Linked DNA regions of Homo sapiens. The protein of the gene in region 1 purifies or fractionates together with the protein of each later gene. This does not show direct contact. Each region holds a gene or a part of one and is shown on either strand. Other genes may lie near its edges.

Evidence for each region.
Region 2: the proteins of LIPG (region 1) and PLS1 purify together in Homo sapiens (affinity purification with mass spectrometry; 2 studies listed by BioGRID and IntAct, with this or other methods). This does not show direct contact.
Region 3: the proteins of LIPG (region 1) and TRMT1 purify together in Homo sapiens (affinity purification with mass spectrometry; 2 studies listed by BioGRID and IntAct, with this or other methods). This does not show direct contact.
Region 4: the proteins of LIPG (region 1) and TMED10 purify together in Homo sapiens (affinity purification with mass spectrometry; 2 studies listed by BioGRID and IntAct, with this or other methods). This does not show direct contact.

What each region holds. Positions count from the first base shown.
Region 1 is NC_000018.10:49,557,641-49,565,412, reverse strand, and holds the start of LIPG (endothelial lipase isoform 1 precursor), read right to left. Parts: upstream 3,357-7,772; 5' UTR 3,105-3,356; coding exon 3,008-3,104; intron 97-3,007; coding exon 1-96. UniProt on the Homo sapiens protein: Exerts both phospholipase and triglyceride lipase activities. More active as a phospholipase than a triglyceride lipase.
Region 2 is NC_000003.12:142,599,278-142,606,812, reverse strand, and holds part of PLS1 (plastin-1), read right to left. Parts: intron 6,286-7,535; exon of another isoform or gene 6,067-6,285; intron 1-6,066. UniProt on the Homo sapiens protein: Actin-bundling protein. In the inner ear, it is required for stereocilia formation. Mediates liquid packing of actin filaments that is necessary for stereocilia to grow to their proper dimensions.
Region 3 is NC_000019.10:13,106,437-13,113,971, forward strand, and holds part of TRMT1 (tRNA (guanine(26)-N(2))-dimethyltransferase), read right to left. Parts: intron 6,576-7,535; coding exon 6,460-6,575; intron 6,382-6,459; coding exon 6,269-6,381; intron 3,871-6,268; coding exon 3,722-3,870; intron 3,566-3,721; coding exon 3,479-3,565; intron 3,403-3,478; coding exon 3,333-3,402; intron 3,249-3,332; coding exon 3,114-3,248; intron 3,031-3,113; coding exon 2,945-3,030; intron 1,424-2,944; coding exon 1,315-1,423; intron 1,215-1,314; coding exon 1,138-1,214; intron 1-1,137. UniProt on the Homo sapiens protein: Dimethylates a single guanine residue at position 26 of most nuclear- and mitochondrial-encoded tRNAs using S-adenosyl-L-methionine as donor of the methyl groups. tRNA guanine(26)-dimethylation is required for redox homeostasis and ensure proper cellular proliferation and oxidative stress survival.
Region 4 is NC_000014.9:75,145,231-75,152,765, forward strand, and holds part of TMED10 (transmembrane emp24 domain-containing protein 10 precursor), read right to left. Parts: intron 6,914-7,535; coding exon 6,802-6,913; intron 2,508-6,801; coding exon 2,434-2,507; intron 1-2,433. UniProt on the Homo sapiens protein: Cargo receptor involved in protein vesicular trafficking and quality control in the endoplasmic reticulum (ER) and Golgi.

The DNA.
Region 1 (7,772 bases):
AGCATCCTTCATGCTCTGGGTCCTTGGAGGTGCGGAGGTTAAACCTCACAGATGGTTTGACCTCAGTCTGTGTAGCTTTGGGTTTGTGGAGCTTATCTGGGGAGACAGAACAGAGCGTGGGTGCATCTAGCAGACTTGCGGAGTGAGAGACCTGGGGTCTGATTCTAGTTCAATCGTGAGCAATTTGCTTAAGCCATCTGGGTTTCGGTTTTTACATCTGCTGAATGTTCCCTTTTCACCTCCCAGAAAAACTGTGAACATTTTATAAAAAAGGACATCTCATTTATACTTAAAGAGTATTAATTAGTCACTAGTATTAATTACTGTCACTCTGAAATAAATAGATCTCTCTCTTGCATTTCCCTCTTCTTTCCTATCAAAAGGAGTTCTACTTCCTTCCTACTTTTAGAGTACAGGTTCTCAGTTCTTTTTCTGAAATGCTTGGGACCAGGTGAGTTTCAGAATTTAGAAGTTTTCAGATTTTAGAAAGGCATCATGGAGCATACACCATATATTATATAATGCTGCCAGTGGGGCCTGGGCTATTCCCCCTGGATCAAACATCCTAATATTTCTGCAGAGAATACATAACCACTCACATTTGAGGGCAAATATAAAGATAACCAATAGCCTCCTGTTATCTCAGGCCAGGTTTTTGCTGCCAAATAAGTTCAGATCAGGTAAGGCCAGGTCTTGCTGCCAAACAAGTTACCAAACACATTTTCCAATTTTGAGAGTTTGTGGATTTTGGAATTGGAGGCAAGAGGCTGTTGACCTGCTGGAAAATAGGCTTCCCCTAGTGTTCCCATCTAGGGAAACTCAGGCATCCTCAGTGCCCTTTCTAGTGATGGCATGTGCCAGGCATTCATCTGGTTTGTTAAGTAAATGACTAAAGCCATGGAGAAACTCCTAAAAGCAACAAAAATCCCCCCTTCCAGCTTCACTGCTCATGCACAGTGCCACCTAGGAGACGGCCCTGCTCCCAAAGTGCAGCTCATGTCACTGATGGCCACTGTGGCTTAACACTAAGTAGGTGCTGTCATCATGACACCGTTTCAGAAAGTCATAAATGGACCCCACCCAGCACTCTTTCAGCCATCCTGGGATGCATCACTGGATAACTGGCTAGAAAGTGAGAGTATCAAACTCTCCTATCACCCAGCAGGGAAAGATGCCAAATGACCATCTTGGAGTTAATTTATCTCAGAGTTAAGAAGCAAAAGGAAGAAGATACCAAAAGGAAAGAGATATAGTGGTGGAGAGGGCGGAGGGGAAAGGAGGGAGAGAGGGGGAAGAATGCAGCAGATGTAAGAGGGATAAGGTTCCAGAAAATGCTGCTGAATGCACATGAGCGGAAGTCAGGTTAACCGTCATGAAAGTAATGAACAAAAGCCCCAACCAGCAGAAATTTGAACCACGGACATAATGAGTTCGACAACTCCCCACCTTCTACCCAGATAGCCACTCATGCAGAGGCCAGATGGGGAAACCTAGGAGAAAAGAAGTCTCCTGGATTCCTGAGACAGATCTGCGGATAAACCCACATATGGACAAAGACTCTTCCTCTTAGAGTCTGACCTGCTCTGACCCCAAAGTTCTCTAGGTACATTCCTACTACTTTTGGCCTGGGTCACTTCAGCCTCTGGGACTTTCTGATTGTTCCTCACCCAGATGTCCTCATGGCTCCTTCTCTCACCCCCTTCAGCTCTTTGCTCAATGGTCAACTTCTCCAGAAAGGCCTTCCCTGACCACATCATAAAATCGCACCACCTTCCCCCACCAACATGCCCCACCTTCCTCCTCTGCTTGATTTTTCTCCATAATACTGAGCACCACTGATACTTTAATCAGTGCACTGTCTGTCTTCCCACCACTGAAATGTAAGTGTCACAAGGGCACAGATTGCCATCTATTTTGTCCACTGCTCTCTCCCCTGCTCCCAGAATAGTGTCTGACACTAAGTAGGTATGCAGTAAATACTTTTTGCAATGAAGGAAATGACTCACACATACTCAGAGGCCCAGAACACAGAAGTTAGAAGGAACTTTAGCATTTTACAGGTGAGGAGCCAGAGATGAGACCTGCCCTAGGCAATGCTTCTAGTTAGCACCAGAGTTGGAAACATGTTGAGTAAAGCAAGGCTTTCCATTCATTCACAGTAACCCTCCCACACATACACAAGCCCACACAGACCATTTGGCACAACCTCAGCAGACTAGAAGATGAGATGATGGGGTTCAGTTTAGAGGCTCCCCAGCCCTCCACTGCTTATCAGCTGACTTAGTTCTCACTCTGATTCTGACTCCCCCAGAGCTGACTGACTCTGGCTCCCCCAGGGCAAGCTGCCTCCACTGGCAAAGGCTGCCATACAGAACCCAAGAGGAAGAGAAGCTAAAAGCCAGGAGGAGGAAAGGGAGGAGGAGTGGGAAGAGGAAGAGTCGGGGGAGCACAAGAGTGTTGAAGAGGAAAAGGCTGGCAACCTGGGGGAATAGGCCCGGCAGCTTCTAAGCACAAGCGACCCACCAGACGCTCCCTGCAAGCACGAATCAAACCAAAGCCAGCTACCCTGCCACCTGAACTTTCAAGACACCTACACCAAGATTAAAAGGCAGCTCCAGGAGACACAGCTCTGACAGCCTTCTTGCCTCTCAAACCTCCAGGTTCAGGCATGAGGACAAGGTTTCAGAGCTGCTGCCAGGCCGCTCGGCTGGCTGGACAGCACCAGCACTGGCTTAGGGAGCCGTATAAGGGAAGGAGGTGGGGGTGGGAGGGCTGGCAAGAGCCAGCGCACCCTGCCAGCCTTTGCCTTTTGCATGACTTGCCGGGAATGCCCCCATCAGACCAGCAGAGAGACAGGTGGACTCCAAGGTGGATTGGAGGAGAGAATGGGCAGCGCAGTGGGAAAGGAAGAATTTCATAGGAACAAGGAGGGTTTGAAGAATCAGCAAGACAGAGGGGACCCAGCACAGAGAAGTGGCTGGGGGGAATAAAAACAAATTCACGTTACCTTCCAGCCGTCCCTCTGGACCAAAAGGTACGGGGCTCCCCGCAGCAAAGCAATAGCAGAGGCTCCAGAAACAGAGCAGAGGAACGGAGTTGCTCATCCTGCCCCGCCACACCCCCTCCCAAGAAACAGAAGTTTTAAAAAACAAAAACCACCTCTTGGTGTTTCCAGCAATCCCGGCCGGTAAGACCCTTCTCTCGGCCAGGGGCTGGGGGACTGGAGGCAGAGAAGGTGGAAAATGAAAACTTGGCGGCACGGAGCCCGGGCGGTGGCAGGGAGCGAGTGTCAACGGCTTGCCCCAGAACGAGATCTGCCCTCGTCCTGAGCCGCCGGGAGGCAAGGACTCGCTGCTGTCACGCTCCTATAGAGGTAGTTTTTAAAAGTATGGGAGTCATCTGACCCATCGCCAGATGGTGATTTGCATAATTTATTCCCGTCTCTGGGCTCTGATTGGTCACACCTTGCTGACGCCGGAACCGAGACTGGAGAAAGTTTGAATGAAAGCGCTGCACACTCACCGCGTGGACGCCGCACGCTCGGCCCCGCTTCCTCCCGGGCCCGCTCCGCAGGCAGCTGCGACTCCAGCAGCTCCAGCTTTCTCCCACTGCCCTCCTCCGGACACCCAGATCCTCCTCTCCCCACTGCCATCCCAAGTGGCGGAGGCGGACATTTCCCTGAAACTCTGCGTCCGCTGGGGAGGCGATCCCTGGAGAAGGAGAGCATCCTCTCCAAGGCTCAAAGCCACACTCTCTCTGGGAGTGGTCTATCCGCTCCCTGGGCCGGGAGTCCGTCGGGGGAGAGCCACCTGGTCATCCCCTTTGTCCTCCTCTTCTCCCTCCCTTCCCGCCTAGCGAGGGCCGCAACAGGTGCAGAAGGCGCGGCCGCACAATAACCCGGCGGAGCTAAGGGGCTGTGAGCTGCGGCCGGCGCTGGAGGATCGCACAGTACCTGCTCGGAATGCTCGCTCCGCCACTAGCTGCAAAACTCCAAGCGAGCCAGCCAGCTTCTCCGAGGCGGTTCTCTCGTCCGCAATACGTGGGTGATAATGTATCGGCGGCTTAGGGATGTTGGGAAAACTAAGAGTTCACGTAGCAAAGCACTTAGCGAGGCGCGGAGCTCGTGGCAGGCGCTCTCCTACGGTGGGGTGGAGGGCTACGGGAACACCAGGCGACCTCCTCAAAGGGACCAGTGAGCCGAGATTTGGAGTCTAAGACGCGTGGCCAGAGCCCAGTGTCTGCCGATGAGCACTCACTCCTTGGCGAGTGAAATCAAGCATCTCCTTTCTCTCTGTTCTCCATCATTTCCTCCCGGCTCTCCTTCCCTTTATTGATCCGGGTCCTGCGGCAGAAAGCAGCGAGCGGAGGGAGAACTTGGCCCGGAGTCTGCGTCTGGCGCTGGGGAGCGGGGACTGAGCCCGGAACACCGACGGGGCGGCTGCGCCAACAACCACTGCGGACGCAGGGCGGGTACGAGAGGCTGAGAGGCTGCGTCCCGCCATCCAGCCTCGCTCCAGCCGGGAGGATCCGGCTCTTTAAGACGATACCCTTAACCCTGCAGTCGCCCGGAACAGGTCCTGCCCCTGCCTGGGGAGGGAAAACCCCCACAGCAGTCCCGCGCCCCTTCCTCCCTAGCGTCGAGGATCCAGCTGGAGAGACCTGTGCGAGGAAACCGAGCCGGAGCCAGCAGATCCTGTTCCGACCTCGCCTCATTACTTTTGTTACTCCAGCTGCCAGCAGAGCACGCTTTGTCCCTCCCGTGTGCTATCATTCATTAACAAGACTCAGGCGGGCTTTAGTTTTTTAGTATAGAACTCAATGGTCTGTGTGCGATGGTAAATATCACCCCCGGATATGTTGTTCCCACTCTGTCTCTCTCTTCATGAGGAAACTATACAGACATAGGTCTAATGTTATCTCCATTTTACAGATGGGAAAACTGAGTCATGGGGACAGGCTGCAGATTTGAAGAAAGTCTCAAGACAACCAGGTCTCTCTTCTCTGCTCTAGGTTCAATTTGGCCAATTGACCTTTAAATGTGAGCTCTTGGCAACCTGGTCTAGTGGCTGAGGCAGGGGGTAAGCTGTAGTCAAAAGTCCTCTTCCCTAACCCTGGCAACATAGACACTCATCTCTACCAAAAAAAATTTTTAAATTAGCCAGGCAAGGTGGTACACCTGTAGTGCAAGCTATTAATACTTGGGAGGCTGAGGCGGAAGGAGTCCTTGAGCCCAGGAGTTCAGGGCTGCAATGTACCATGATCACACCACTACACTCCAGCCTGGACATCAGAAGAAAAAAACTCCTTCCCTGTTCTGAGTTGCTCATAGCCATGGTCCCTAGAACATTAACTGGATAATGTGGAGAGTGTGTCTTGAGAGCCTTTGTTATAGGTGAGATACCCCCACGGAAGCTAGGGTATTTTGCAGGGTATTGTTGGAAGGTAGTCCTGCAAAGTTAGTTATCCTGCCTAGAAAAAAAGAAAAACCCGGCCGGGCGCAGTGGCTCACACCTGTAATCCCAACACTTTGGGAGGCCGAGGCGGGCGGATCACCTGAGGTCAGAAGTTCGAGACCAGCCTGACCAACATGGAGAAACTCCATCTCTACTAAAAATACACAAAAAATTAGCTGGGCGTGGTGGCGCATCCCTATGATCCCAGCTACTCGGGAGGCTGAGGCAGGAGAATCGCGTGAGCCTGGGAGGCGGAGGTTGTGGTGAGCCAAGATCGCACCATTGCACTCCAGCCTGGGCAACAAGAGTGAAACTCCTTTGCAAATAAATAAATAAGTAAATGAAAAACCTGTGTTTTACAGGTTCAACAAATCAACATCTATTTTTTAACTGCCAAGGCTATGAAACCATTTAGGTTTTATTGCTAGTTGGTTAGAGTGCCCTCCTGTGTCTCCACATTAAAATAACATGCGAGAATTTTCAAAGGACATCATGAAATTATAATTGTAGCATTAGAATGTATGATGTCAACTGTTCTGCTTCATCCTTCCCAAGAACAAGGAGATCTGAAGAGCCTCTCGCCTGGAGGAGTTCCAGCTGAGGAGTCTTGATGGAACTTCTGCTGTGTTGCAGTCAAAATTTCAAGGTCTCAGACAACACAAGGAAAGGGTTCCATCCTTATGTGGCAGCCCAGCATCTAAAGACCCTTCCAATGTTAAAGGAATAAATCTTCTGCTTATGATAAGACCCAACTCTCCACTAAAAAAAAGCTCAAAAGCAATTGCTCACCTTCCCAGCCCCAGCCTCTCTTGCAGCTAGAGTCCCCGATTCAAACTCAGTCAACTGAACTCTGAACTGGAAACTAATGAGGCTGGAAGCACATACCCACGCCACTCTGCCAATGGACAGCCAGCTCTGGTTCTCTGGGGCAGCAGTGGAGTCACCCCCAGACTAGTCTGCAGTGGGATTTGGGACATTGCTGTCTGCCTGAGTATATCCTCCAAGCCTGGTTCTTCTGCCCTGCAGATTCCAGTTGTTACCCAATATTCTCTTAATGAGGTCCTCTTTTACATACATTATCCAGAGACTGTTTATATTCTTACAACCAAGAAAATGACTTAATTGCCAGAAGCTTATTGAGCAGCTGCTAGGGAGGAAACACTGGCCTGGAGACCATGCCTGTGCTCTCACAGACACAATACAGAAAGTTACAAGTGCCAGAAGGCTGGCTGGTATGTAGGAGTTCCCAGATATCTGGACCAATGCTGTCCAACAGAAATATATAATACAAACCGCATGTCTTGGTCAGTTTGGGCTGCCAGAACAGTATACCATAGACTTAGTGGCTTTAAACAGAAATTTATTTTCTCATAGTTCTGGAGACTAGAAGTCCAAGATCAGGGTACCAGCATAGTCGGTTTCTGGTGAGGGCCCTCTTTCTGGCTTATAGATGGCTGCCTTCTCACTGTGTCCTCACATGGCAGAGAGAGAGAGAGGAGAGAGAGAGAGAGAGAGAGAGAGAGAGAGAAAGAACACGCTGATGTCTCTTCCAATAACAACTCTAATCCCATCATGGTGCCTCACCTCATAACCTCATCTAAACCAAATGATCTCCCACAGGCCCCATCTCCAAATACATCATAGGGAGTTAGGGCTTCAACATAGGAATTTGAGGGGGTCCCAATTCAGTCCATAGCGGCACATGTATAATTTTATGTTTCCTAGTGGTCCTATTATAAAGGTAAAAAGAAACACATGAAATTAAAATTAAGTGGCTGGGTGTGGTGGCTCACGCCTGTAATCCTGGCACTTTGGGAGGCCAAAGTGGAAGGATGGCTTGAGGCTAGGCATTTGAGACCAGCCAGGGCAACATAAGGAGACCTCATCTCTACCCAAATAAATAAGTAAAAACATTTTTAAAAAGAAATTAATATTAATAATATATTTTACTTAACCCAACATGTCCAAAATATTATTTCAACATGTTGCCAATATAAAAAAATTATTGAGATATTTTACATTTTTGTTTTGAAATCCAGTGTGTATTTTACACTTACAGCACATGTCAGTTCGGACTAGCCATATTCAAGGGCTCAATAGCCACATGTAGCTGGTTGCTACCATATTGGACAGCATAGATCTACAATGTTAAAACTAAAATAAACCTTAGAGATCATTTAGTACAACCATCTCACTTTACAGATAATGATCCCAAGACCCAGCCACATTCACTGACTTGCTCAAGGTCACACAGTTGGTAAAAAGTCAGGGATGGAACACAATGTTGGGTTACTAATTCCATTTCTTTCTTTTTTTTTT
Region 2 (7,535 bases), on another chromosome or scaffold:
CACACAATGGCATATTATGCACACCTATGAAAAGAAGTCTTGATATGTGCTACAACATGAATGAACCTTGACATCATTGTGCTAAGTGAAATAAGCCAGACGCAAAAGGCCACATATTATACGATTCCATTTATTTGAAATTTCAAGAATAGGCAAATATATAGACAGAAAGTAGATTTGGCATTGCCTAGGGTAGGGGCAGCTGGGGAGGAGGTAGTAGAAAATGAGGAAAGTGCTAATGAATACAGGGTAATTAAAATATTGTAAAACTGACTATACAGTTTAAATTGGAGAATTGTATGATATTAAGGAAAGTCTGAGAAACTGTCACAGCCAAGAGTAATAAAACTGTTATTTTAAAAACAATGTCATGTGTGCCAAGAATACTGATGAAACATCATTTAATCCTATTCAAAGTGAAGATTTTGACAACGTGTGGTTGATATGAAACCTTTAATTTCTCTGAGAAGTCCCGCTGCTTGCTTTAGTAATACCCTTAATGCCTCAGGACATAACATACTCAAAAAAAAACTGTGCATAAAGAAGTTCTAAATGAATCTTGGTATCCTTTCTAGATTAAATGAGCAACATGCACATCACAAGGTCTTCCTTAAGTGTGCCTGAGATGTGAAATAGCATGCAGACTATTCCCACTGATATTTAATAATACATTAACATGCAAAAATGGGTATCATTGTGTACCCTTTTGTACAATGTTTCAGGATTCAGTTATTTCCTCTGAATTACTAGAAAATTACAATGTTTTGGGTTCTCCCATTATTTATTGTCCTAGTGGTATGAGAAATGCTTATAGTAACCTTGCAGAAATACTTCAATTAAGGCTTAGTCTCCCACAGAACAATATATATCACATAGGGAGAATATAACTTTGTAAAATATTTAGAAAGTTTAATCTTTTATCCTACACATTCCAGATGTACATTAGCAGGAAGTATAAGTTTTAAAACAAAACTACTTTGTTCAAGATGAAAGAGATGGATATTTTCCCATGTTAATCAACTCTTATTTCAAGAACTCATTTTAATGTTAATATGCTCCATAGTTGAGGGTTAGCCATAAAATACATTTAGACTTTTATAAAAATTGCACATAAATTTCATAGAGGAATTATTTCATATGGTCAGTAACAGAAGAAAATATGAATTGACTGCAAGAGCACTAGATTTGGAGCTAGACTGAAGTCCCATGAGGTCAGGAGTTCGAGATCAGCCTGGACAACATGGAGAAACCATGTCTCTACTAGAAATACAAAAATTAGCTGGGCATGGTGGCACATGCCTGTAACCCCAGCTACTGGGGAGGATGAAGCAGGAGAATCACTTGAACCCGGGAGGCGAAAGGTTGCAGTGAGCCAAGATTGTGCCCCTCACTCCAGCCTGAGCAACGGAGCAAGACTCTGTCTCAAAAAAATTAACCCTGACATTTTTTCAAATGTTGAAATTATAAGACACAGTTATGAGTTTAATTTCTGGCAGTTTCAAATCAGGCAACCTCCAGCAGGCAAGTCATTCTCTAAGTCTTGGCCACTTATCAGTGAAAGGAAGTAAAATCAGAAAGCTTTTTTAAACATCAATAAATGCCTTTCCTCTATCTTGTAGTTGACTAGTTACTTTCACATCCACTATCTTGTTTAATTATCAAACCTACAGCTGAAGAGAAGGCCTTCCTTCTCATGGGGTCAGAAACAGAATCACAGACTTTGACTTCTCATCCATGGTTCTGATCATAGGCCAACTGGTTTCAGGTATCTAAACTTTAAATTGCCCTAAGACTCATTTTAATTGACCACTAAACATTCAGAGATTTTCAGATTTCCTTTTTCCACTGATAATAATCTTGAATTTTTTTTTTTTTTTGAGACGGAGTCTTGCTCTGCTGCCCAGGCTGGAGATGCAGTGCCGTGATCTCAGCTCACTGCAAGCTCTGCCTCCCGGGTTCACGCCATTCTCCTGCCTCAGTCTCCTGAGTAGCTGGGACTACAGGCACCCACCACCACGCCTGGCTAATTATTTGTATTTTTTAGTAGAGACGGGGTTTCACCATGTTAGCCAGGATGGTCTCAATATCCTGACCTCGTGATCCGCCTGCCTCGGCCTCCCAAAGTGCTGGGATTACAGGCGTGAGCCACTGCACCTGGCCAATAATCTTGAATTTAATTTGGCTATTTGAGGATAAGAAAGGGATCAAGCAAATTGCTATTATTGTTGTTTTTCCAAAATCAACTCACTTCCATGACAACTTCTGATGAAAAACATTGGGTTTTGGTGAGCTGTGTTTCACAGATGGCACCTCACTGACCTGATTAACACTTAAAATTCCAATAACTAGGTCACTCTTAGAAACATTTCCTTGACCAAAAGGATGTCCCAATGATCTTAAACCTGGGGAGAGGGGAAGGAAAAGGGAGACCGCCAGGAAAGAATTCAGAGTGCTCTCCAGGAAGAGACAGCAGGAGTCTTTGAGAGGTTTTGGTTTATTTACAAAGATTATAAATACTAACTTGATATCAACCTAGAGATTCTACTTGTCTAAACCTTTCCCCCTCTTTTATTCATTCCAAGCAGCCCTTGGTCCAAGGTGTAATTAACAAGACCGATCCTTCCACACACATTTACCAGTGTCTTAAATTCAAATCCAAATTCTATTTTGGCAGTACTGCTAAAATCTCTTATTTCTTAGTTCTCAAAAAAATTGAAGGAGCTTTTGTCATTTTTTTAATATAAACATCTTCTTTCTTGAAACTGGATCTATAAACAATTTAATGTATTGTGTTCCTCAATAATAGAGTAAATCTGATTTCTGCTAATATTTTGGGTCAGTGACACCCCAAAACCTTTTGCTTTTTATCATGAAGAAGCCCCTCAGACACCTTCTACCTTACTAATGTCTCCATCCAATTTACTATCAAGAAAAGACAGTTTCTCCTTTTTTTTTGTGGTCAGCTTGGATCTTTTGAAGGAGGCATGTCTGTGTGCAGTGAGTTATCACCCAGATGTTCTTGTAGGTATTTTTTTTTTTTTTTGAGGCAGGGTTTCACTTTGTCACCCAGGCTAAAGTGCAGTGGCACAATCTCAGGTCACTGCAGCCTCAATCTCCTGGGCTCAAAATGATCCTCCCACCTCAGCCTAAGTAACTGGGACTACAGGCACGCGCCACCATGCCCAGATAATTTTTTTGTAGAGACGATGTTTTGCCATGTTGCCCAGGCTGGTGTTGAACTCTTGAGCTCAAGCGATCCACCTGCCTCAGCCTCCCAAAGTGCTGGGATTATAGGCGTGAGCCACCATGCCCAGCCAGTCTCGTAGTTTTATAGCTGTGAATTGCTCACAAAAGTCAATCATAAAATTTAGTTTATCGTAAAGTCTGAAGTCCCTTCACCACTGGACTTTATGAACAAAGCTATGTCTAACTCTGCTAGGAAATATTTTCTGATGAAACAAGTGTTTTAAGTAAGAAAAAACTCTCCCAATCATCTAACTCCTCACCCTTTCTGTGCCCACAATATTACTATAATAAAAAGCAACGTGCCTTTACAGAAGCCATGCTACATATGTCTCACCAAAAACGGCACATAGGCACTTTCAGACACAGTGCTAAAAAGAAATCAGATGATCAAAGTTGAACAGCCTCACATCTCATGTGACCTTACATGTCAGCAAAGTTTCCAGCAATCAAAATTGTATAACCATTTTATAACCAATAAACCCGTATGCAGCACAAATGTCTCTTTCTCCCCGACGTTCATCATCAGCCAGAGTAAAATGTTAATTCGGAACTGGATGAAGTGACAAGCTTTTGAATGTTGAGAGAATGAGGGCCAGAGGTGGCCTCAGCCTCAACACTTTGGGAGGCTGAGGCGGGCGAGTCACTTGAGGTCAGGAGTTGGCGACCAGCCTGGCCAACATGGTGAAACCCCGACTCTACTAAAAATACAAAAATTAGCCCGGTGAAGCCAGAAGCTGCGGCCCTGCCTTTCATATCCTGGGAACACAGAACCACTCAGGGGAAGGTAAAGCAGAACCAGGAAATGGAAAGAGAGCTCAGGCAGCAAGGGAGGGAAGCACGCTCTCAGCTGAGTTCCATTTTGAGACTCCCAGGAGAGTAAGTTCTCTATGTAATTAGGTTCATCAAGAGGAGGGAGAGGAGCACATTTTCTCACAGGTCAAAGCTGGGGCCTATGGGGTGGGGGGGGCCTTTAAATTATTTGTCTTTGACCTGGGGCCTTTCCTGAGGTATCCACACCCACCTCCAATTAGTCCACAGGGACTTCACAACTCCCCAATCTTAAAAATTGGGGGAGAATGTGTTCACACCTGGATTCTTCCTGGGGGTTTATGGCCATAGTTCAAAGGCCTAAGATTAGAGTCATGATCCATAGATATTCCAGGAGCTTCCAGCAGTGGATCCTGACACCCCAGGGAAAGAAATCCTTATACCTGGTCACTCCAGAGTTCTTAGGCTCCTACACAAGGTGAGCTTCCCAGTTTCCCATTGCCAACTCCACAGACACGCCCTGGATGACCACCAACTCACTCCCCAATCACAGCTCCACCCCAAAAGAGGGTGGGAGCAGATCAGAAGTGGCTTTAATGGTGTACCCAGAGAAAAAGCTGCTGTCCCTTTCTCTAGGAATGCTTCAAGAGAAAAGGAGATAAAGACTAAGTGGAATGAAAAAAAAAAAAAACCGGAACGATTTACCACTGTTGTTTTGGTTTTTTTAAATGTGGCTCAAAGAATGTTGGTGGTTCCACCAGCTGAAACCTGTGGCTATTCTAAGCATCTGTTAGAGTTACCTCAGAAAGAGCTTTGCATTTTTGTTAAGATATTTGATTAAGTTATTTGAGCGCTCAGTGTATAAAGTCAGATAGGCCTGGGGTCAAATCTCAGCTCAGCCACTTGTAAACTATATGACCTCAGATAAATGCTTTTATCTATCTCTCTAAGCCTCAATTTTCTCATCTAGAAAATGAGGGTAGGTCAGGTGCAGTGGTTCATGCCTGTAATCTCAGGGCTTCGGGAAGCTGAGGTGGGAGGATTGCTTGAGGCTAAAAGTTTGAGATCAGCCTAGACAACATAGCAAGACCTTATCACTATAAAAAAATTTTTTTTAATAAGCCGGGCACGTTGGTCCACACCTGGGAGGCTGAGGCGGGAGGACTGCTTGAGCCCAGGAGTTCAAGGTTACAGTGAGTTATGACTGTGCCATTCCACTCCAGATTGGGTGACAGACTGAAACCCTGTTTTTAAAAAATAAAAATTAAAAATAAATGAGTAATTGTTGCACCTATCTCACAGGATGGTTTATAAAGATGAAATGATATATTACTTGTATTTAGTATAGTGCCTGGTTCATGGAAGATATTCTGTAATACTAGTTACTAATATTACTATTATTATTTTAAGAAAGATATTTGTCATTTTACAAAGGGCCATGGTAAATTCTAGGATTTAATATTTGGACATTTAAGTGTATGAGACATTAACTTCAACATACTACCTGATTTTGCATCTGCCTAATCAATTTTCACTAACGTCATCATGAAAAACATATATATATAAAAAATATAGGCCGGGCGCGGTGGCTCATGCTTGTAATCCCAGCACTTTGGGAGGCCAAGGCGGGCGGATCACGAGGTCAGGAGATCGAGACCATCCTGGCTAACACAGTGAAACCCCGTCTCTACTAAAAATAAAAAAAAAATTAGCCGGGCGTGGTGGCGGGTGCCTGTAGTCCCAGCTACTCGGGAGGCTGAGGCAGGAGAATGGCGTGAACCCGGGAGGCGGAGCTTGCAGTGAGCCGAGATTGCGCCACTGCACTCCCGCCTGGGCCACAGAGCGAGACTCCGTCTCAAAAAAAAAAAAAAAAAAAAAAAAATATATATATATATATATATATATATATATATATATATATGAAACCAGGCCAACCCTTCCCTTCCCCACTGCTAGCCATTTCTCAAGCTCATTTGTTCTGTCTCTCCTCTCAACTGCTCTCTCTCTCCTTGACATTTTTAATGGACCATCGTTGCCTGTGGAAATATGAAGATGGTGGTCAACCACAGTGTGCAAGTCAATGGCAAGGATGTGGCATCCAACAGCTCCCTCATCGCTGTGTGCAGCTCAATGGAAAGGCTGTGTTTTGATTTGCAAAATGGCTATGATTTGCAAAATGCAACATCTGTTCCAAGTAAACAAATATTCCAAACCACCTCTTGAACTGGAAGTTTGGATTCAGCAGCACTGCTTTCTGTCTTGTTTTTCCAGGTAGAATCTGATCACAATTGTCTCTCTCTCAGCCTTACCTCACCCCCATGTTCTTGGGTCATAAACACCACCCTTTGGTGCCACCCTCCTGGCCTACCCTCACTGCACCTGGCCTACCCTCTCCAAAGCCATTGCTCACCACCTCCTGGTAGTGTACAATATATCTAGGAAATAGACTCTCAGTCCCAAGGACTTTGGGCCAACCCATTTGTGTCTGCCTCTGACAAGCTAAGCTACCATGACCTTTCCAGACTTCAACTCCCCAGTGTGAAGATTCCTAGGACCCCAGCCTCACTCCCTCCTCACTGTGTACACTCAACCTTGAACTGGCCAGCAGCCTTGTGTTTCACCTCTTCCGATGACACACACATTCTCTCATCGACCACCAAATTTCCCCCTTAGATTGGTTTCTGAGGGCTTTCAGTCCACAGAACATCTTGAACTGGAGTGTCTTGCTACCAACTCAAATTAATCTTGGGAGGCTGAGCATGGTGGCTCAGGCCTGTAATCCTAACACATTGGGAGGCTGAGGCAGGCCAAAGAATTCAAGACCAGCCTGGGAAAAATAGTGAGACCCCATCTCTAAACACAAAAAAATACAAAATTAGCCACGCATGGTGGCACGTGCCTGTGGCCACAGCTACTTGGGAGGCTGAGGTGGGAAGGATCACTTGAGCCCGGGGAGGTCAAGGCTGCAGTGAGCAGTGATCGTGCCACTGCACTCCAGCCTGGGTGACAGAGTGGGACCCTGTCTCAAAAAATAAATAAATAAATAAAAATAATCGTGGGGCCAACAACCTCAAAAAGTAATAGTTAATGAAAAGAGCTTGGGTCTAGTAATGAGGAAATTTGAACAGAGCTTCTGGCTATCCCACTAACTAGCTTAGTTAAGAATATCTGGCCGGGCGCGGTGGCTCACGCCTGTAATCCCAGCACTTTGGGAGGCCGAGGCGGGTGGATCATGAGGTCAGGAGATCGAGACCATCCTGGCTAACAAGGTGAAACCCCGTCTCTACTAAAAATACAAAAAATTAGCCGGGCGCGGTGGCGGGCGCCTGTAGTCCCAGCTACTCGGGAGGCTGAGGCAGGAGAATGGCGTGAACCTGGGAAGCGGAGCTTGCAGTGAGCCGAGATTGCGCCACTGCACTCCAGCCTGGGCGACAGAGCGAGACTCCATCTCAAAAAAAAAAAAAAAAAAAAAAAAGAATATCTGAGTCCCTCCTCTATACAATTAGGGGATAGTCTGGATA
Region 3 (7,535 bases), on another chromosome or scaffold:
AACAAAATGGACAAAAAGTTACCCCTGGTATGCTGGTAATGCTAATTTTCTTTTCTTTTGGGATGGAGTCTCACTCTGTCGCCCAGGCTGGAGTGCAGTGGTGCGATCTCGGCTCACTACAAACTCTGCCTCAGGTTCAAGCGATTCACCTGCCTCAGCCTCCCGAGTAGCTGGGACTACAGGCATGTGCCACCACACCTGGCTAATTTTTTTTTTTTTTTTGTATTTTTAGTAGAGACAGGGTTTCGTCATGTTGGCCAGGCTGGTCTTGAACTCCTGACCTCAGGTGATCTGCCTGTCTTGGCCTCCCAAAGTGCTGGGATTACAGGTGTGAGCCACTACGCCCAGCCCAGTCAGCAGATTTAGTTATTTTTATTTTTATTTATTTATTTATTTATTTATTTGAGACGGAGTCTTACTCTGTCACCCAGGCTGGAGTGCAGTGGCGCTATCTCGGCTCACTGCAAGCTCTGCCCCCCGGGGTTCACGCCATTCTCCTGTCTCAGCCTCCCGAGTAGCTGGGACTACAGGCACCTGCCACCACGCCCGGCTAATTTTTTTTTTTTTTTTTTTGTATTTTTAGTAGAGACAGGGTTTCACTGTGTTAGCCAGGATGGTCTCAATCTCCTGATCTCGTGATCCGCCTGCCTCGGCCTCCCAAAGTGCTGGGACTACAGGCATGAGCCACCGCACCCAGCTATTTTTTTATTCTTTTTGAGATGGAGTCTCGCTCTGTCGCCCAGGCTGGAGTGCAATGGCGCGATCTAGACTCACCGCAACCTCTGCCTCCCAGGTTCAAGCGATTCTCCTGTCTCAGCCTCCTGAGTAGCTGGGATTACAGGCACCCACCACCACACCATGCCCAGCTAATTTTTGTATTTTTAGTAGAGATGGGGTTCCACCATGTTGGCCAGGCTGGTCTTGAACTCCTGACCTCAGGTGATCCACCTGCCTCAGCCTCCCAAAGTGCTGGGATTACAGGCGTGAGCCACCTACCCAGCCCCAGTCAGCAGATTTTGAATCTCACTTGAAGAATGGGCACGAGTCTGTGTGGGGCAGCATCTGTGTTGTCTGCACACACATGTGCTTCCATGTCTGTGGGCAGCCCTGGCCGCTCCTGCATGTGCTTGCCCCTACCTGGGCTCCACACTGAGAATGCGGAACGCTGGGCTAGTCTCTGATAGTCGCTCCCGTTTCACCGGACATTCCTTCTCCTGGGGGCAGAGGTCAGAGGTTAGGGAATACTAGGCCCAAGGGACCTCCAGGTGACCACCACCTGCCCTCCCACCTGCATGAGGTCAGCCCTGCCCTCACCCAGCAACGCATGATGTCCCAGAGGGCAGAGGCAGGGGCATCCGTCTTCACAGCGTTCTTACAGGCGTGGGAGAGTGAGACCCGGAAGTCAGCGTGGAGGAGGGCCGACCTGGGGAACAGCAGGGATTATGAGGGAGATGCCGGACTCCTTGACCCCAAAGCCCAAGCTGACCAGCGTAGGTAAGACTACCTTCGGCAAGGGCTCATGGCTACAGAGTTCATTTCTTTTCTTTTCTTTTTTTTTTTTTTTTTTTTTTTGAGATGGAGTCTCGCTCTGTCGCTCAGGCTGGAGTGCAATGGCGCAATCTTGGCTCACCACAGCCTCCGCCTCCTGGGTTTAAGCGATTCTCCTGCCTCAGCCTCCCGAATAGCTGGGACTATAGGCATGTGCCACCACGCCCAGCTAATTTTTGTATTTTTAGTAGAGACAGGGTTTCACCATGTTGGCCAGGATGGTCTCGATCTCTTAACCTTGTGATCCGCCCGCCTCAGCCTCCCAAAGTGCTGGGATTACAGGAGTGAGCCACCGTGCCTGGCCTTCTTATTTATTATTTTTTTGAGGTGGAGTCTCACTCTGTCGCTCAGGCTGGTGTGCAATGATGCAATCTTGGCTCACTGCAGCCTCTGCCTCTCAGGTTCAACCAATTCTCCTGTCTCAGCCTCCTGAGTAGCTGAGATTACAGGGATGTGCCATGACGCCTGGCTAATATTTTGGTATTTTTAGTAGAGATGGGGTTTCGCCACGTTGACCGGGCTGGTCTCGAACTCCTGGCCTCAAGTGATTCGCCCGCCTCAGCCTCCCAAAGTGCTGGGATTACAGGCATGAGCCACCACACCTGGCCTTTTTCTTTTTCTAATTATTATTATTATATTTTAAATGGAGTCTCGCTCTGTTGCCCAGGTTGATGTGCAGTGGCGCAATCTTGGCTCACCACCGCCTCCTCCTCCTCCCAGGTTCCAGTGATTCTCGTGCCTCAGCCTCCCAAGTAGCTGGGACTACAGGCATGTGCCACCACACCCAGCTAATTTTTGTATTTTTAGTAGAGACAGGGTTTAACCATTTTGACCACGCTGGTCTTGAACTCCTGACCTCAAGTGATCTGCCCACCTCAGCCTCCCAAAGTGCTGGGAATATAGGCATGAGCCAATAAGCCTGGCCTAATTTTTTTTTTTTTTTTTTTTTTTTAAAGAGACAGGGTCTCATTTTGTCACCCAGGCTGGAGTGGCATGATCATAGCTCACTTTAGCATCAAACTCCTGGCCCAAATGATCCTCCCACCTCAGCCTCCTGAGTAGTTAGGACTATAGGCATGTATCACCATGCCAGGCTAATGGGTGTGTGTGTGTGTGTGTGTGTGTATACATACGTATGTATGTGTGTGTATATGTATGTGTGTGTACATATATATTTATTTATTTATTTGTTAGAGATAGGGTCTTACTACGTTGCCCAGGTTGGCCTCAAGTGATCTTCCTGCCTCAGCCTCCCAAGGTACTGGGATTACAGGAATGAGACAGTGCACCGGGTTCTCCCCACCCCCTCGCAAGTTCTATGCATGAGAATCCCTGGACTTGCCCCAGGCCACCCTGTGGTCTGGGACAGGCTCCTCCCGACCCCAGGGGCTCTTACCGCAACTGCAGGAGGCTTGGTGTGTTGCAGTGGATGGTGCTGCTCAGCTGGTCCAGGGTGTAGTACAGAGGCACGTCCGGGAGCTCCTGCGATGGGGGACAGGATGGGCATGAGTGGAGATGGACGGGCACAGGTGGAGCCCCCTTCCCCGTCACAGCCCGGCTCTCACCTCAGTGATGACGCTCAGGACCCCTCGGATCCGCTCCGAGGTGTGGAAGCGGCCGGGGTTAGCGCTCACAGCCTCCAGGACACGGCCCACAAAATCCAGGTCATGGATGGGCTCTGCCCACATGGGGCCACCAAGCTGGGGGCGCACCGGGGACAGGTGAGCAGGGACTATGACCTTCAAGACCCTCTTGCTCCTTTGCCTCCCCTGGCCTAGCCCTACCTGGTGTCGTTGCCCACAGTGTTCACACTCGGGGGTCACAGGGGGACCACAGGCTGCAGAGAACTTGGCCCTAAACAGAGAGGGGTGGTTGGTGGGGAGGGAGGAAAACCCTGGGACTCCCCTTCTTCTCCTTCCTCCCTGCTCACCGGCCGCTGGGGACTCCTGACGCTTTGCCGAGACGCTGAAGGTGGAAGGCCCCGCAGCCCACACACTGGAACACCAGCGCCTGCTTGCTGTGGGGGGTACCAGTGGCCACGAGTTCCCAGCGTGACCACGACACCCCAACTCCTCCCTTAGACTGGCTCTGTCCCTTAAGAAGCCCCAGATCCCCCAGGGCAAGGTCCTGTCTCCTCTCTCAATCCACCACCGCTCTCTGCCCCCGGGCTGACCTGGCTGAGGCCTTGACCTTGGCCTGGCCGGTGAAGACACGGACAAAAACACGCACGTAGAAGTCAGCGCTGATGCTGAGCAGCGGCACCACGAAGCGCTGGTAGCAGTTGGCGCGGAGGTCCAGGCTGTGCAGGACGATTCTCAGGGCCTGGGGGTGGGGGGTGGGTGTCAGCCTCCCCTCCACTATCCACCCACCCCACCAGGAGCCCTATGTGGTACTCACAAGTACAGGCTCAGGGCCAGCTCCCTGGGATCCAAGCCCACCCCTGAAAGTCCTGGCTGTGGGACCCTCAACAAGTGAGTATCCCCTCTCTGTGCCTCAGTTTCTTCATCTGCAAAATCACAACAGTCCCTGTCTGTGGCACTGCTGGGGGCACTAAACGAGTGAGGAAAGCATAGATCCAACCTATTCTGACCAGCATTATCGGTGTGCCATGTGGCATGTACTGAGGACCCACGTTCCAGCCCCCAAGGGCTCTGTGGGCAGGAAGTGGGGATACTAGGTGCTGTAGAACTGCTGGGGCCTGGGCCGGGCGTGGTGGCTCATGCCTGTAATCCCAGCACTTTGGGAGGCTGGTCAGGAGTTTGAGACCAGCCTGGCTAACATGATGAAATCCCCGTCTCTACTAAAAATACAAAAAATTAGCTGGGTGTGGTGGCGGGCGCCTGTAATCCCAGCTACTAGGGAGGCCGAGGCAGGAGAATCACTTGAACCTGGGAGGCGAAGGTTGCAGTTAGCTGAGATCTCACCACTGCACTCCAGCCTGGGCAACAAGAGTGAAACTCCATCTCAAAAAAGAAAAAAAAGCAAAACGGCTAGGGCTTTCCTGCTAGTGTGAGACTCTGATATGGGAAAGGAGACAGCATTTCCCGGGCTGACTTCATGACAGGACCCTTTAGGAACAAGGGCAAGAGCCCTCTGTGGACCACGCTGGAGTGCAGTGGCACTATCAAAGCTCACAATAACTTTGAACTCCTAGGCTCAAGTGATCCTCCTGCCTCAGCCTCCAGAGTAGCTGGGACCACAGGCATCCACCACCACACCTAGGTAATTTTTAGGGTTTTTTTGTAGAGATGGGGTCCTCGCTATGTTGCCCAGGTTCCTGACCTCAAGTGATCCTCCCACCTTGGCCTCCGAAAGTGCTAGGATTACAGGCATGAGCCGCTGCACTTCGCCACTCAGCCTTCTTGAATCCTGATCAGACACTCAATAGGGTCAGACCATTTTTTTTTTTTTTTTTTGAGACAGAGTTTTGCTCTTGTTGCCCAGGCTGGAGTGCAATGGTGCCATCTCGGCTCACCGCAACCTCCACCTCCCGGGTTCAAGTGATTCTCCTGCCTCAGCCTCCCGAATAGCTGGGATTACAAGCACCCACCACCACGCCCAGCTAATTTTTTTTTTTTTTTTTTTGTATTTTTAGTAGAGACGGGGTTTCACCATGTTGGCCAGGGTGCTCTTGAACACCTGACCTCTTGAACACCGCCCACCTCGGCCTCCCAGAGTGCTGGGATTACAGGCGTGAGCCACCGCGCCCGGCCTATTTTTTTTTCTTTTTTTTGAGACAGAGTCTTGCTCTGTCGCCCAGGCTGGAGTGCAGTGGCACAGTCTCAGCTCACTGCAAGCTCCACCTCCTGGGTTCACGCCATTCTCCTGCCTCCGCCTCCCGAACAGCTGGGACTACAGGTGCCCGCTACCATGCCTGGCTAAGTTTTTGTATGTTTAGTGGAGATCAGATTTCACCATGTTAGCCAGGATGGTCTCAATCTCCTGACCTCATGATCCGCCCACCTCGACTTCCCAAAGTGCTGGGATTACAGGCGTGAGCTACCACGCCCGGCCTATTTTTTTTCTTTTTGAGATGGGGTCTCCCTCCCAGGCTGGCGTGCAGCGGAGTGATCTTGGCTCACTGCAACCTCGCCTCCTGGGTTCAAGTGATTCTCCTGCCTCAGCCTCCTGAGTAGCCGGGATTACAGGTATCTGCCACCATGCCTGGCTAATTTTTGTATTTTTAGTAGAGATGGGGTTTTACCATGTTGGCCAGCTGGTCTCAAAGTCCTGACCTCAGGTGATCCACCTGCCTAGGCCTCCCAAAGTGCTGGGATTACAGGTGTGAGCCACTGCGCCCGGCCTTCAGACCATCATTGTGCCCATTTTACAGATGCAAAAAAACCCGAGGACCAGAAAGGTGAAGTCACTTGCCCAGAGCTACCAGCAAAGCTAGGATTTAAACCCAGTCCTGGAAAAACGACCTTTAAAAAAAAAATTTTTTTTTGAAAAGTTGTTTTAATACAGAAAACTAAAATAATGTGGCCATGCACTCCTGTCCTGGCCAAAGCCACTGTCCCCAAATGACCATGATTATCAGCCATGCTCTTAGGAACTATGTGGGTTGAAGACACGCCTGTCGTTAACAGCCTGGGATGCATCTGGCCATCAGCCTGGAGGAAGCTGAGCAGGTCTGAGGAGGGGGAAAGTGTATTGGGAAGGGACTCAGACAACCACCTGTCCCCCGGTCTCCCTGGCTGGCTGGCAGAGGGCCCCTCACCATCTCGTGGCAGGCCCGGCTCTTGAGGGCCATGGCCCCGTACTTGCTGTAGCACGTCTCCCCGCTGTTCCCCGCCAACACCGCCATGTCTGTGCAGGTCACACACAGCAACCCTGCAGAGAGGGGCTGGGCAGTGAGAACCCTCCAACACCCCAAGCCCTGCTCCCACCCCAGTGCCATCCCCACCTCACCTCCTTCACTCACAGCCTGCACAGCTGCATCCAGGAAGGTGGCTGGGCTGCCATAGGGGTCCAGATCGATGACGTCAAACCTCTCCGACACCCTCTGGTGCTGGTACATCAGCATCCTGGGTGCAAAGAGGGCCAGGTCCTCAGCCTCCCACGCCAGGTACCTTCTCTGTCCCCTACACATATTAACTCGTACAGCACAGTGGTTTGGGTCTGAACTCCGGGGCCAGATTCCCAAGTTCAAGTCCTGGCTCAGTCATTTATTTATTTATTTATTTTATTTTTGAGTCGGAGTCTTGCTCTGTCAGCCAGCTGGAGTGCAGTGTTGTGATCTCGGCTCCCTGCAACCTCCGCTTCCCCAGTTCAAGCAATTCTCGCGCCTCAGCCTCCCGAGTAGAGTAGCTGGGACTACAGACATGTGCCACCACGCCCAGCTAATTTTTGTATTTTTAGTAGAGATGGGGTTTCAACATGTTGGCCAGGCTGGTCTCAAACTCCTGACCTCAAGTGATCCATCCACCTCGGCCTCCCAAAGTGCTGAGATTACAAGTGTGAGCCACTGCACTGGCCTTGGTCATTTATTAAACTGCACAATTTTCCTACTTAGGAAAAGCACCATGTGGAACTCAGTCCACACATCTAAAACAACAACAATACTGATATAAGACGTATCTGCCTGACACCATTTCAAGCAGTTTATAGATGTATTAACACATTTTTTTTTTCCTTTCTTTGGAGACAGAGTCTCGCTGTGTCACCCAGGCTGGAGTGCAGTGGTGGGTTCTCGGCGCACTGCAACTTCCACCTCCTGGGTTCAAGCGATTCTCCTGCCTCAGCTTCCCAAGTAGCTGGGATTACAGGCACGTGCCACCATGCCTGGCTAATTTTTATATTTTTAGTAGAGACGAGGTTTTACCATGTTGGCCAGGCTGGTCTCGAGCTCCTGACCTCAAGTGATCCGCCCACCTCGGCCTTCCAAAGTGCTGGGATTACAGGGGTGAGCCACTGCGTCTGACCTCATTTTAAAATTTTTGTAGAGACGGGTTTCACTGTGTTGCCTAGGCTGGTCTTGAAATCCT
Region 4 (7,535 bases), on another chromosome or scaffold:
GCAAAGGAAGCACCGTGGTTTTCTTTGGGCTAGGGATTCCCCTCTTGGGTTAAGCAAAAGGTCAGGAAAGATAAAGCCCCTTTCCTAATGTCTATAAAGTCCAAGGATGATGGAAATTCCAGGAGGTATAGGGGTTCTAAAATGCTATACGACAGCTGTGTCCAAAGCATTCTTTATATAAACCCACAATAATGTCATCTGTTTTTGAGGGGAACTAGCTATGTCTACTGTCTAATAGGGCATTGATGTGTTGTTATTTAATAAATACCCTTGGGCTGGGCGCGGTGCCTCACGCATGTAATCCGCCAGCACTTTGGGAGGCCAAGACAGGCAGATCACGAGGTCAGGAGATCGAGACCATCCTGGCTAACATGGTGAAACCCCGTCTCTACTAAAAATACAAAAAATTAGCTGGGCGTGGTGATGGGTGCCTGTAGTCCCAGCTACTCGGGAGGCTGAGGCAGGAGAATGGCGTGAACCCGGGAGGCGGAGCTTGCAGTGAGCAGAGATCCCGCCACTGCACTCCAGCCTGGGCAACCAAGCGAGACTCCATCTCAATAAATAAATAAATAAATACCCTTAATGACAGGCATCATGTTGGAGAAAAAGATTACAATAGGTAAAATTCCACAGAGTACAAATTCAACTGAGAATGGTCCACAGTTCGGGAACAGAAGCAGTAACCACAAACTGGAAATCATTTTACCTATTCTTCTACCTTATAATAATGAGAACATTCTCCCTAGTGTTTTATATCTTATAAAAGCACTTTAACATAATCTTATTTAAATATAATTAAGATTCTTCTGAATCATGAAGGTTTAAAAAAATTTTTCAATTTACTCAAGTTCATCAAATAAAGAGGTCTTCTTGTTTTATTTATTTAAATTAAACTAGCCTGGAAACAGAAACAAACAATTGAAAATTCTCTACCGGAAACTGTCTCCCATTCACAACTGTATCACTTGCTCCTATTTACTGCCTCTAAATAACGCTACCTAGTTTCATTCAATTGAGGATTTGAACAAGGAAAGAGCTGCAACTGTTGTACTACTTCCTGTTGCAGAATTAACCAGTCATTTCCAATCTTCTTCCATTTTAGGATATTTCCCTTCCAAAGTGCTGTCCAAAGAGAGAGCAACTTCTGTTCCACTATTCCTAGACAATTTTCCTAAATCACTTAAACCAATTTTCCTTCATTTACTTAGTTTGCATTCTTCAAAAGCCCATTCTATTTCCTGTACCCCACTCCTCCTTCATGCCCTTACGTACTGTTTTGTTGGGTAAAAATACTCTTATCTTTCTGTAAAGATCAATTATCTAGTCTTAAATAGTTCTTGTGGTTTTTCAAAGGTGCCCTTCATTTGAAGAACCCTTTTGTGCTGCCCCCAAGTCTCGCAGAGATGAAAAAGGCTGTTGTCCTTCTCCTCATTCTGTGTACACCTCCATCTCCCTGTCACCCAAATAAGTGTCAGTTTTTATTAGTCTATAATAAATAACTTCTTATCAGCATCAAATTTCTATTATCACCATTCCTAGTCTCTTGCAGCTTTTTCCTCCATCCTGCCCTCTTCCTTGAAAGTTTGAAATTATTTTAACTAAAAACTATCTTTGACTATTGTTATTTCCCAAACACAAAACAGTTGTTCAAGACTAAACAGCACTGAATCCATGCCCCAGATAGATAGATAGATAGATAGATAGATAGATAGATATACAACTGTTGGTCTTGGGGAAAAAGTCTTAGGAATTAAAAACAAATCACTTTTCTTAACCTTGGGCATTAACAAATAACTGAATTCCAGCTTTAAAAAATTTAAAATATCTCTCTCTACACACACACAGTTCAAGAGAACTAATGCCATATGCTTCAGTGTTTTATCAAACCAACATTCTGTGGGACAGTTTGTTCAGTCTTTGGCTGACAGCACAGCCAGAATTATTCTTCAAGGCTGTTTTTTTTTTTTTTTTTTTTTGAGATGGAGCCTTGCCCTGTCGCCCAGGCTGGAGTGCAGTGGCACGATCTCGGCTCACTGCAGCCTCTGCCCCCCAGGTTCCAGCAATTCTCCTGCCTCAGCCTCCCGAGTAGACTAGCTGGGATTACAGGCGCACGCCACCACTCCTGGCTAATTTTTGTATTTTTAGTAGAAACTTGGTGTCACCATGTTGACCAGGCTGGTATCGAACTCCTGACCTCAGGCGATCCACCCGCCTTGGCCTCCCAAAGTGCTGGGATTACAGGAGTGAGCCACCGCGCCCGGCTAAGGCTGTTAATACCACTTTTTGTATCAGTAAGATCATGGCTGGCTGTCACAAGACTGCTAAGAAACCACAGCCCTTTGGGCAAAGCACAGCCTGTTGGCCTGCCGAGGTCACAGAAACCTCACAGCATAGCACACTGCTGCCTCCTCTGGCTGTTAGAGCAGGACATACCTCTTCGTAATTTTTCGCCTCCACTCCATGCTTCATGTCTAGGATCACGAGTTGGTCAGGTATCCGCCCTGTTCCTGAGAAAGAAATCAAAGGAATCATTGTGTGAAATACTTAAAATTCTGGGAAATTACCCACCCACCCGCCCGCCCTCCCTCTACAGAACCCCTACCCTCTCAATAGAGGGAAACAGCCACAACTCCTCCCCCTGCTCAGTTGCAGAAAATTCCTGGCTCTGGCTAAAATCACAAACATTCCAGACAAAGCCTCTATCTGTGTGGGGTGCCGGAAAGCAACAAGAACATGCTGCTGGCAAACATCTCTGAGCAGGCAAGGACACAAGATACTGCAACTGGTACTACAGAGGAACAGAACAGAAGGGAAACCACACAGGCTTATTGAATTGGGAAATAAAACTCAAAAATCAAAACAGTGTGAAATTGAGTGGCATATAAATCAAGAGATAGTAGGCAACAACTTCGGCTGAAAATGTGTATTTCCACATCTGAAAAGGTTGCCCTGTCAAATTTTGAGGGAAGGCCATGATGAATTAGGATTATTGGATATGTGCTAAGCTTGGATTTACTTAATATAAATCTGAGTACTGAAAAGAACATAAGTTTTATCTAATATTCCACTTTAATTCAAACATTTTGATCAATGTATGGCCTAGTTCAGTAGGAGTACAATGTCATAGAGCTATTCCCACTAAGCCCTTAAAAGAGTTACAACAGCTCAAGGAAAAAAAAAAAACAACTTTAAGTGTTCAAATCTCAGGGATGCTTCTTATAATAGAGTTCATGTTAGAAGAGTCAATCTGATTCAGCTGGATCAAAGAAGCATTCTAATCTTAAATCATCAAGTAGGAGAAAGGAAAAGACCCAAGGAGCCCCAGAAAACTGTTCAGCCCCAATCCCCTGGAATTCACCTAGTTATAAAATTTACAACTGCCTGCATGAAATTAGAAGTTGTGGGAAACAGTGCCACTGAAGCACTGGGGTTCCTGAAACCATAAGCCACACTGAATGGTACTGTACCCTCTGATGCCTGAGAGACACTGGAAGTTTTCTGAAATGAACTGAAGTCAATTCAATAACTACTCATTGAAAACTCACTAAGTACTAAAACTGTGCTGGAGATTTTAAAGAGATATGCTACGGCTTCGATGTGCCCCTCTCAAAGTTCATGTGTTGGAAACTTAATCCCCAATGCAACAGTGTTGAGAGGTAAAACCTTTAATTTTATTTATTTAATTAAAAAAAATTTTTTGAGACAGGTTCTTACTCTTGTCTTCCAAGCTGGAGTGCAGTGGCACGCACCATCATGGCTCACTGTAGCCTCGAACTCCTGGGCTCAAGCAATCCTCCCACTTCAGTCTTTCAAGTAGCTGGGACTACAGGCGTGAGCCACCACACCCAGGTAATTTTTGTATTTTTTGTAGAGACAGGGTCTCGCTATACTGTCCAGGCTGATCTGGAACTCCTGGGCTCAAGCGATCCTCCTGCCTCAGCCTCCCAAAGTGCTGGGATTATAGGCATGAGCCACTGTGCCTGGCGGAGAAGTAGGACCTTTAAGAATTGACTAGGTCATGGGGCTCTGCCCTCATCAATAGATTTAATGTCATTATCATAGAAGTAGGTTTGTTATAAAAGTGAGTTCAGCCCCTTCTTGCTCTCCTGTGCATTCTCTTGCCATGTGATACCTTCTGCCATGTTATTGTGACACAGCAAAAAGGCCCTCACCAGATGTGGCCCCTTGATCTTGGACTTTCCAGACTCCAGAACCATGAACCAAACAAATTTCTACTGTTTATACCCACTCTGCGATGTTCTGTTATAGCAGCACAAAATGGACTAAGCCAGGATACAATCCCTGCCTTCAAATAATTCAATTGGGATCTAAGACATATACACAAAACAACTATGGTGAAAATGCAAAGCACTGTAAAAGTTTAAGCCAAAGGAACTGGTTCAGACAATTCCAATATGGAGCAAAGGGAAGAGGAGAGAAGATTGTAGTTGTGGACAGACTTCACTAAAAAGGGAACACCTAAAGGCAGGACTTAGGCAAAGTACTCTAGGCAGACGGCAAAGCATGAGCAAAGGCTCAGATATTAAAATCGGAGTATGGCATGCTTGAAAGACAGTAAAGAACTTCTTTTGGGATGGGCACGGTGGCTCATGCCTGTAATCCCAGCACTTTGGGAGGCCAAGGCAGGTGGATCTCTTGAGGTTCGAGTTCGAGACCAGCTTGGCCAACATGATGAAACCCGTCTCTACTAAAAATACACAAATTAGCCAGGCGCAGTGGTGCGTGCCTGTAGTTCCAGCTACTCCGGAGGCTGAGGCATGAGAATCACTTGAACCCGGTAAAGTTGCAGTGAGCCAAGATCGCACCACTGCACTCCAGCCTGGGTGACAGAGCAAGACTCTTGTTTCACACACACACAAAAAAAGGACTTCTTTTGGATAGACTGGAAAGATTAACTCGAAAGCAAGAGAAATATAAATAAGACTGCACAGGGTAAGACTGAGAACAAAGTAAGACAAGTCACATGTGTCTTCTGAGCATGAAAACAACAAGTCTTCAAACAAAACAAAACAAAATGTGGCACCCAGAGTGTTCTGTTCTCCCAAATCCAATGTGTAATCCTGATTACGACATTGTCCATGGAAGATGTACTTCCTCATTGAAAAAGTTGTGAAACTTAAGCAGTTCACAGCCCCACCTGGTCCAAATGATCAGGATATCTTCTTTCTTACAAGGTCTTCCAACTACCTCCCTGATTGTCACAGCACAGTACAGTCATGCACTACATGAAGACAGTTCAGTCGAGGACAGACTGCATATATGAAGGTGGTCCCATAAGATTATTATAATACTGTATTTTTACTATATCTTTTCTATGTTTAGATACACAAATAGCATTGTGTTCTAACTGCCTACAGTATTCAGTACAGTCACATGCTTTACAGCTTTGTAGCCTAGGAGCAGTAGTAGGCTATACCATATAGCCGAGGTGGGTAGTAGGCTATAACATCTAGGTTTGTGTAAGTACACTTAATATTTGCACAACGAAATCACCTAACCACCATTTCTCAGAATGGTCGAGTCCAGACTATACAGTCTCTTGCATAGAACTGTCAGCCTATCCTCTTAGCTGACATCATAGCCCTAAAGAGTCTCCTTTGTAAAAGGACCCTTCATAATTTTTCTCTCTGCATTTGCCTGGCAAACAGACAATCCTTTTTGTTTGTTTTGAGACAGAGTCTCGCTCTGTCACCCAGGCTGCAGTGCAGTGGTACGATCTTGGCTCACTGCAATCTCTGCCTCCTGGGTTCAAACAATTCTCCTGCCTCAGCCTCCCGAGTAGCTGGGATTACAGGCATGTGCCACCACCACATCTGGCTAATTTTTGTATTTTTAGTAGAGATGGGGTTTCGCCATGTTGGCCAGGCTGGTCTCAAACTCCTGGCCTCAGGTGATCCGCCCGCCTCGGCCTCCCAACTGCTGGGATTACAAGCGTGAGTCACTGCGCCCGGCCAGTTTTTTTTGTTGTTGTTGTTGTTTATTTTTTTGAGATGGAGTCTCACTCTGTCACCCAGGCTGGAGTGCAGTGACACAATCTTGCTCACTGCAACCTCCACCTCCTGGGTTTAAGTGATTCTCCTGCCTCAGCCTCCTGAGCAGCTAGGGTTACAGGCACGAGCCACCATGCCCAGCTAATTTTGTATTTTTAGTAGAGACAGGGTTTCACCATGTTGGCCAGGCTGGTCTCAAACTCCTAACCTTCAGTGATCTGCCTGCCTTGGCCTCCCAAAGTGCTGGGATTACAGGCATGAGCCACCATGCCCAGCCTTTTTTTTAAGACTTCACTTTGTTAGAGCAGTTTTAGGTTCACAACAAAACTGAGAGGAAGGCACAAAGATTTCCCATATCCCCCTTCCTCTTACATATGCATAGCCTCCCCCATTATCACCATTTCCCACCAGAGTGGTACATTCATTACAAATGATGAACCTACATGGACACATCACTATCTACCAAAGTCCACAGTTTACATTAGGATTCACTCTTGGTGTACATTCCAAATGTAATGTTCGGACAACCATATAATGACATGTATCCACTATTACAGTATCATACAGAATATTTTTACTGCCCTAAAAATTCTCTCTGTTCCACCTATTCAATCTTTTATTCCATGTAGTCGACCTTTTAAAAGGTGCTCCAAAGACTACAAGGTAACAGGTCTCCAAATCAGAATAAATAAAGAATACAAATGAAACTAGATATTAAGTGCTGACTGTATTAAGGAGCATTAGAGTTGGAGAAGATTCTTAATCCAGAGAAACACTCTTGATTACTCACCCTTGCTCTCAAAACACACTTCAAACATGTCATAATCTTCAGTGGTAAAGGCAAATTTCCCCTTGGTTGCATCCTCTTTGGAGTAGAGAATATGGCCAGCAGAATCTGTGATCTAAAATAAGAAAAGTAGTAAGAATAGGCAGCAAATAACACTCAGGAAGAGAACTTACAGAAACTGGGAAGATAGAGACACTATCTATGAAAGACAATTGATAGTTCTCATTATGATGACTATGTTCCAACCATCCCCAAAGACAAAAACTGGATTAGAAGATTAAATCCAAATACAGCAAATTTCATCCATTCAAATAGCCTAATCACACTGTGGGCTAAAATCTGTTGCTGCTATAGGATGTCTTACCATACCAAAAAGTTAATCTAGCTAATGCTCCAAGTTACATACATTGGATTTATTGGCAAAAACTCACTAGTATCATTCCGCATAGAGGAACATGTCACAAAAATGAAAGTAGACAATTATCAAAAGATTATACAAGAGGGACAAAGATATATAAAAACACATTTATTCTATAAAACAAATTTGATGGGGAAGGGGTGTGGGTGGAGAATAAAATTAGGACACACAATACAAGGACAGCAGGAAGAAAAGCATACATAGAGAAGACAATCCAGGAGATCTATTCCTGCAAATTTCATGTTAATTATGTCAACGGCCAGGTAGAGTGGGAACAAAACACAGGAAACAAAAAAGAAGTTTCTGGCCAGGCATGGTG